Linked DNA regions of Homo sapiens: region 2 is linked to region 1. Evidence: fine-mapped expression QTL. A gene starts in region 1. The other region holds a variant in brackets. All regions are shown on one strand. Distances are between the middles of the regions.

What was found.
Region 2: its variant is fine-mapped to the expression of UTP18 in whole blood (TOPMed, PIP above 0.99).

Annotation. Positions count from the first base shown.
Region 1 is chr17:51,258,800-51,263,061 of GRCh38, forward strand. It overlaps UTP18 (UTP18 small subunit processome component), which reads left to right and starts at 1,747. Exons shown (of 14, transcript NM_016001.3): 1 at 1,747-2,127. The coding sequence starts at 1,786. MBTD1 (mbt domain containing 1) reads right to left here and starts at 1,250. Exons shown (of 17, transcript NM_017643.3): 1 at 1,036-1,250; 2 at 344-407. RefSeq lists silencers at 988-1,307, 1,648-1,757, 2,108-2,297 and an enhancer at 2,768-2,817.
Region 2 is chr17:51,304,472-51,308,733 of GRCh38, forward strand. No RefSeq gene overlaps it. Among named protein-coding and RNA genes, the nearest start is that of LINC02071, 29 kb to the right of the region's middle. The variant A/G (reference allele first, on the strand shown) is at 1,827.

The DNA of each region.
Region 1 (4,262 bases):
TCCTGTAGAAAAACATCTTCAGGCATGTAAGCCAGCACACTTGACACTGACCCAGCAAAGTTTTCGGCTAGCCCTCACTATCTCTCAACCCCCCTTCCTCCACTTCCCTGCTGTTCTTTCTTGGCACACAAAATATAGGCCAATGAGCAGTGGGTGGGTGAGGAGGATGTGAGAGAAAATTTGAGAAGTAAAAAAAGGAGCAACTTAACCAGGACATGAATGAGACTGAAGGGTCTAATAAGGGTAGGCAGACAACAATTAGAACTACTGAAATATGGGCTTTCCTGGGCAGTAGTGAGCTCTCAGTGCTTTTAGGGGTGTAAGCAGGGTTCAGACTACCTACCACTTGTCAGAGAGGCTGCAGAGGGGACGGCTGCTTTGGATGACCTCTAATGTCTCTTCCGACTCTGAAATGTTAGGATTCTTATTTCACAAAGGAGAACGCAATGGTCACAGAAGTCCACCGACTTGAAACCCTTTTAAATATGCAGCCTTGGAGGCTGCTTCCCAAACACCACTCCCACCTCTCCCGCACGTGCCCACCCCGCCCCCTTTCAATATTTCCACCTCCACGTGCAAACCGCCTCGCGGCACTGCCCCCAAGGCAGATAGACACCTTCCCCTGCAAAGCAACGAAACTGTGCTCCCCCTCCCCGCCAAGAAGAGAGGACTACTCCACTCTCCCACCCTGGGTGGCTAAAAAAGGAAAAGTCTCGGATCCAGCCTTTCCCCCCTAGCCAGAGCAGGGGGCGGGGGCAGGACGCAGAGAAAAACTTTCTTCTCGAATTTTTCTTCCAAAGGGTGGAGGAGATGGAGAGAACCCCAACGAGTCCAAGGCTGACGGGGTGGGGGGAGGGGAACCCCTGAATCGTTTAACGGCTGGAAGGGGGAGGGGGGCTCCGGAGGTTGAGAGGGCGTGGGATGGAGAAGCAGGCCAGGGAGCGGGGTCAGGGAGCTGCGGGGTTCCTGGGGTCGGAGAGCTGCAGGCGTCCCCCCCACCTGGCACACAAAGCGGCTGCCGCGCTCGGCTCTCACCAGATCCTTTGTGTTTTCCATCAGGGCCTCATGGGTAGGGGTTGTCCGTGCTCCCCGAGCCCGCGGCGCCCCCTCCCCGGGCTGGGGGCAGGTGCCTCTCCCCGGGACTGCGGCGACTACAGGGGGCCCCCGGCTGGGCCCAGACCGGTGGCGGGTGCAGCAGCCCCCGGATTTCCCCCCTTTAACTCGGGTGGCCCCAGGATATCAACAACATTAGCATAGCCCTCCCTCCCCAGCGCGCCTGCGCCGTGACCCGCGCCCCGATTGGCCCACTTCCCTACATACCCTCCTCTCTCGCTTCCACCGTGGGACCCTCTGCAGGCTCCGTACTCCAAGGACCGTACCAAGACGAAGGGTGGAAAGCGTATTGGGGCTTGTGTCAAGTCAAGTGGTTACAGCCAAGAGGAAAAGCAGAAGTTCCATTCAGCCGTCCCAGTGTATAGTCGGGGTTTCTTGCGCTCCTTTCAATATGTTGCAGCTGCGAAATTGTGTTGGAAAAATTTTCCACTCCAGTCACGCCGCTTCCCCCTACACCCGGAAGATTGGCCCTCCCGGAGGAACTCCCACACGGGGCGGGGCTGGGTAGGGGAGCGGGAGTTACGTAGAGGGAGGGAGTGCTGGTCACGTGGCAAGAGGCTGCGCAGGCTCCTTCCGGCCCCCGGGGCTTCGGCGGCGGCGGCCCGCGAGGGGCCTGGGCGCATGCGCAGCGAGGTTCCACGTGAGCGCCTGCGTTTCTCCTCAAACCTAACGATGCCGCCGGAGCGGAGGAGACGAATGAAACTGGACCGGAGAACCGGAGCGAAGCCGAAGCGGAAGCCCGGAATGAGGCCGGACTGGAAAGCCGGAGCGGGGCCAGGCGGGCCTCCCCAAAAGCCTGCCCCTTCATCCCAGCGGAAACCGCCGGCCCGGCCGAGCGCGGCGGCCGCTGCGATTGCAGTCGCGGCGGCGGAGGAAGAGAGACGGCTCCGGCAGCGGAACCGCCTGAGGCTGGAGGAGGACAAACCGGCCGTGGAGCGGTGCTTGGAGGAGCTGGTCTTCGGCGACGTCGAGAACGACGAGGACGCGTTGCTGCGGCGTCTGCGAGGCCCGAGGGTGAGGGAGGCCGCGGCGCGCGGGCTGGGCGCACTCGGGCGGGGCGCGCGGTGGGCGGTGAAGCTCCGGGGGGCGGAGCCTGGGCGACCTGCGGCGGCGGGGAGCGCTCAGGTGGGAGGGAGCCCGAGAACGCGGGCGCGGAGGGTCGCAGCTGCGGGTCCCTCGCCTCCCTGCTCCAGACTGAAAGTGCCTGGAGGGCGGGGACCGCGTCTTTCTCCGCCCCTGGAGGCGCCGCTGCTCGGGTATCTGCTTTGCGAACTGTGGTCGTGAGCATCTTTCGCTGCTGCTCGACTCCGCTAGCCTCTTCCCAAACTGAGGGTGGTCTTTTGATCACCTGCCTCAGTTCCTTGTGATTCAGGAATTCGATTTCGTTGATGGAATCAATTCGTGGGCACGGGCCTGGGCATCTCCGTTGTAACTATGTCCCCATGTGACTATGAGACCCACCATGTTTTGAGAATGATCGTGTATTCCGTTCATTTAGCAAATATTGGTGAACCTGTTAGTTGCCAGATACCCTTTCTGGCAATGGCAAACCCTGCGTGATTGATCATACTTTTTGCACACATTTTGCTATCCCTTTAAATTCTATACCAGGCTTTTCTTGAGAGAGTCCCGGACATTGTTCTAGGCACTGGAGGAGACACAGCAATGGACAAAACTGACAAAAATCCCTGCCTTTTGGCGCTTGTGTGCTAGTGGCAGAGACAAGATAGAGGAGATAAACGAGTAAACTTCAGGTTTGTTGGTGACAAGTGCTGAAGAGAAAAAAGGACATTCGGGAAAGGGAGATGGGCGTGTGTAGAGGCCTGTGAAATTTTAGATAAAGGGGGCAGAGGAAAGCTCACCGAGAATTACCCAGGCCATGTTTATTACACAAATGCTGACCTAGTTAATGTCAGCTGCTTACCAGAGCCGCCTTCGGGTGCTTGTAGGAGAAGTGGCAGCAATCTTTTTGGGAAGTACAGAACTATTACTGGAAACATGCTGAACTGTGCGACGGTTTTGTCGTCTGGAAAAGGAACAGTGTACGGAGGTGGGAGCTGTTGGGTTTGAAGGCTATTAGACTAGTAGTAGAGCAAGTAGAAACCACTTGGACATTTCTATCATTGGTTTTGGGAAGCTCAAACTCACTTCAAGGGATATTCTGTGGTCTAGGTTTAGATTTTTTTTTTTTTTTAGACTCGCCCTGTCGCCCAGGCTGGAGTGCAGTGGCGCCATCTCGGCTCACTGCAACCTCCACTTCCTGGGTTCAAGCGATTCTCCTGCCTCAGCCTCTGGAGTAGCTGGCATTACAGGCGTGCGCCACCACGCCTGGCTAATTTTTTTTTGTATCTTTAGTAGAAACGGGGTTTCACCATCTTCGCCAGGCTGGTCTCAAACTCCTGACCTCGTGATCCGCCCGCCTCGGCCTCCCAAAGTGCTGAGACTACAAGTGTGAGCCACCGCACCCGGCCTAGGTTTAGATTTGATAGTATAAACTTTATGGTATAAATTTATAACTTTAGAATTTAGATTTAATGGTATATTTATTTTTTACTTATTTAGAGATACGGTCTAACTTTGTCACCCAGACTGGAGTGTAGCGGCACCTATTAGTCTTCCATCTCCCTTTTGCTAATAGTAACTGGTTGCTCTTCTTGTTGGTCACAGATAAATTACACCTGCACAATTCTCCGAACACTTTAAACTCAGAAGTCAGCTTCATCCTCCTAGGCTCAAGTGATCCTCCTGCCTCTGCCTCCCAAGTAGTTAGCTGGGGCCACAGGTGCACACCACACACCCAGCTAAATTTAAAAATTTTCTGTAGAGACGAGATCTCCCTATGTTGCCCAGGCTGGACTCGAACTCCTGGGCCCAAGCAGTCCTCCCACCTTGACCTCCCAAAGTGTTGGGATTACAGGCATGAGGCATTGCGCTCTCTGCTGGTATAAAGTTTCTTAAGGAGGTAGGGGGTCAAAAACAGATTGGGAAAATGGAGATATCTTTGACTCTAGTTTGCCTCCGGTCCTGTAATTTCTGTAGTTCTGACATTTCTCCTCCTTTTTTCATCTGCAGACTCATCTTTTGTTCTTGTCTTACTTGGTGTTTTCCTTCCTGCGTGTTGAGTGTTGACTTTTTCTCCTTGACTGTTC
Region 2 (4,262 bases), 46 kb after region 1:
GGTCTAGCCTCATAGTAATTCTCCCTTTTTGGAGATCCAGGATTCAGTGTGGGCTCTGCCCAGAGATCAGAGATCCACTTAAAAGGCAGATAGTCCGTATCTAAATAAAATTGGTTTCCTTATACAATCCTATGATAGATTTCTATAATTTTATGTTTGATTTGGCATCCATCTTTAATCTCCCTCTAGCAACACCAGACTTTTTCTCTCTGTACCTTGAGATGTAAATTTTGTTACCTGATTTTTCACCTAAGAGTTGTTTCCTTCGATATGCAGATTTAAGGCAATTTAGCTGACAACTGCCAGGGTAATGAAACAGGTTATGAAGAGTTTGCAAGTCTAAGACAGGAAAAAAAAAAAGTAGGTCTTATGAATCTATAAGATGTACTTCTACTGGTATGCCTAATATGTCTATGTAATTATGTATTGTGTACACAATGTTTCACTACTAAAAATATATAAAAGCTCTAATTTTCATTCCAAGATGGCTGAATAGGAACAGCTCTGGTCTGCAGCTCCCAGAGTGATCGACACAGAAGATGGGTGATTTCTGCATTTCCAACTGAGATACCTAGTTCATCTCACTGGTACTGGTTGAACAGTGGGTGCAGCCCATGGAGGGTGAGCGGAAGCAGGGCAGGGCATTGCCTCACCCAGGAAGCGCAAGGGGTCTGGGGATTTCCCTTTCCTAGCCAAGGGAAGCTGTGACAGACTGTACCTGGAAAAAACGGGACACTTCCACCCAAATACTGCACTTTTCCCAAAGTTTTAGCAACTGGCAGACAAGGAGATTCTCTCCCATGCCTGGCTCAGTGGGACTCATACCCACGGAGCCTTGCTTAAGGCTAGCGCAGCAGTCTGAGATAGATCTGCGAGGCTGCAGGCTGGTGGGGAGAGGGGTATCCGCCATTGCTGAGGTTTGATTAGGTAAACAAAGCGGCCAGGAAACTCAAACTGGGTGGAGCCCACTGCAGCTCAGCAAGGCCTACTGCCTCTACAGACTCCACCTCTGTGGGCAGGGCATAGCTGAATAAAGGGCAGCAGAAACTTCTGCAATCTTAAACGTCCCTGTCTGACACCTCGGAAGAGAACAGTGGTTCTCCCAGCACGGTGTTTGAGCTCTGAGAATGGACAGACTGCCTCCTCAAGTGGATGTCTGATCCCTGTGTAGCCTAACTGGGAGACACCTCCCAGTAGGGGCTGACAGACACCTCATACAGGCGGGTGCTCCTCTGGGACAAATCTTTCAGATGAAGGATCAGGCAGCAATATTTGCTGTTCTGCAATATTTACTGTTGTACAGCCTGTGCTGGTGATACCCAGGCAAACAGGGTCTGAAGTGGACCTCCAGCAAACTCCAGCAGACCTGCAGCTGAGGGACCTGACTGTTAGAAGGAAAACTAACAAACAGAAAGGAATAGCGTAAATATCGACAAAAAGGACATCCACACCCAAACCCCATTTGTAGGTCACCAACATCAAAGACCAAAGGTAGATAAAACCACAAAGATGGGGAGAAACCAGAGCAGAAAAGCTGAAAACTCAAAAAACCAGAGTGCCTGTTCTCCTCCAAATGATCGCATCTCCTCACCAGCAACAGAACAAAGCTGGATGGAAAATGACTTCGATGAGTTGACAGAAGTAGGCTTCAGAAGGTCGGTAATAACAAACTTCTCCGAGCTAAAGGAGCATGTTCTAAACCATTGCAAGGAAGCTAAAAACCTTGAAAAAAGGTTAGAGGAATGGCTAACTAGAATAAACAGTGTGGAGAATACCTTAAATGACCTGATGGAGCTGAAAACCATGGCATGAGAGCTTCGTGATGC[A/G]TGCACAAGCTTCAATAGCCGATTCGATCAAGTGGAAGAAAGGATGTCAGTGATTGAAGATCAAATTAATGAAATAAAGCAAGAAGACAAGATTAGAGAAAAAAGAGTAAAAAGAAATGAACAAAGCCTCCAAGAAATATGGGACTATGTGAAAAGACCAAATCTACGTTTGATTGGTGTACTTGAAAGTGACGGGGGGAATGGAGCCAAGTTGGAAAGCACTCTTTAGGATATTGTCCAGGAGAACTTCCCCAACCTAGCAAGGCAGGCCAACATTCAAATTCAGGAAATACAGAGAACACCAAAAAGATACTCCTCGAGAAGAGCAACCCGAAGACATATAATTGTCAGATTCACCAAGGTTGAAATGAAGAGAAAAATGTTAAAGGCAGCCAGAGAGAAAGGTCGGGTTACCCACAAAGGGAAGCCCATCAGACTAACAGCGGATCTCTTGGCAGAAACTCTACAAGCCAGAAGAGAGTGGGGGCCAATATTCAACATTCTTAAAGGAAAGAATTTTCAACACAGAATTTCATATCCAGCCAAACTAAGCTTCATAAATGAAAGATAAATAAAATCCTCTACAGACAAGCAAATGCTGAGAGATTTTTGTCACTACCAGGCCTGCCTTACAAGAGCTCCTGAAGGAAGCACTAAACATGGAAAGGAACAACCGGTACCAGCCACTGCAAAAACATGCCAAATTGTAAAGACCATCAATGGTATGAAGAAACTGCATCAATTAATGGGCAAAATAACTAGCTAACATCATAATGACAGGATCAAATTCACACATAACAATATTAACCTTAAATGTAAATGGGCTAAATGCCCCAATTAAAAGACACAGACTGGCAAATTGGATAAAGAGACAAGACCCATCAGTGTGCTGTATTTAGGAGATCCATCTCACGTGCAGAGACACATATAGGCTCAAAATAAAGGGATGGAGGAAGATCTACCGAGCAAATGGAAAGGAAAAAAAGGCAGGGGTTGCAATACTAGTCTCTGATAAAACAGGCTTTAAACCCACAAAGATCAAAAAAGACAAAGAAGGGCATTTCATAATGGTAAAGGGATCAATTCAACAAGAAGAGCTAACTTTCCTAAATATATATGCACCCAATACAGGAGCACCCAGATTCATAAAGCAAGTCCTTAGAGACCTACAAAGAGACTTAGACTCCCACACAATAATAATGGGAGACTTTAACACCCCACTGTCAATATTAAACAGATCAATGAGACAGAAGGTTAACAAGGATATCCAGGACTTGAACTCAGCTCTGCACCAAGCAGACCTAATAGACATCTACAGAACTCTCCCCTCTAAATCAACAGAATATACACTCTTCTCAGCACCACATCGCACTTATTCCAAAATGGACCACGTAGTTGGATGTAAAGCACTCCTCAGCAAATGTAAAAGAACAGAAATTATGACAAACTGTCTCTCAGACCACAGTGCAATCAAACTAGAATTCAGGATTAAGAAACTCACTCAAAACCGCACAACCACATGGAAACTGAACAACCTGCTCCTGAATGACTACTGGGTAATAATGAAATGAAGGTAGAAATAAAGATGTTGTTTGAAACCAATGAGAGCAAAGACACAACATACCAGAATCTCTGGGACACATTTAAATCAGTGTGTAGAGGGAAATTTATAGCACTAAATGCCCACAAGAGAAAGCAGGAAAGATCTAAAATCGACACCCTAACATCACGATTAAAAGAACTAGAGAATCTGCAAGAGCAAACAAATTCAAAAGCTAGCAGAAGGCAAGAAATAACTAAGATCAGAGAAGAATTGAAGGAGATAGACACACAAAAAACCCTTCAAAAAAATCAATGAATCCAGGAGCTGTTTTTTAGAAAAGATCAGCAAAATTGATAGACTGCTAGCAAGACTAATAAAGAAGAAAAGAGAGAAGAATCAAATAGACACAATAAAAAATGATAAAGGGGATATCACCAGGAATCAAATAATCAAATAGACACAATAAAAAATGATAAAGGGGATGTCATCACCAGTCCCACAGAAATACAAATTACCATCAGAGAATACTATAAACACCTCTACACAAATAAACTAGAAAATCTAGAAGAAATGGATGAATTCCTGGACACATACATCCTCCCAAGAGTAAACCAGGAAGAAGTTGAATCTCTGAATAGACCAATAACAGGCTCTGAAATTGAGGCAATAATTAATAGCTTACCAACCAAAAAAAGTCCAGGACCAGATGGATTCACAGCCAAATTCTACCAGAGGTACAAAGAGGAGCTGGTACCATTCCTTCTGAAACTATTCCAATCAATAGAAAAAGAGGGAGTCCCCCAAGAATTTTAAACCAATATCCCTGATGAACGTCAATGTGAAAATACTCAGTAAAATACTGGCAAACCAAATCCAGCAGCTCATCAAAAAGC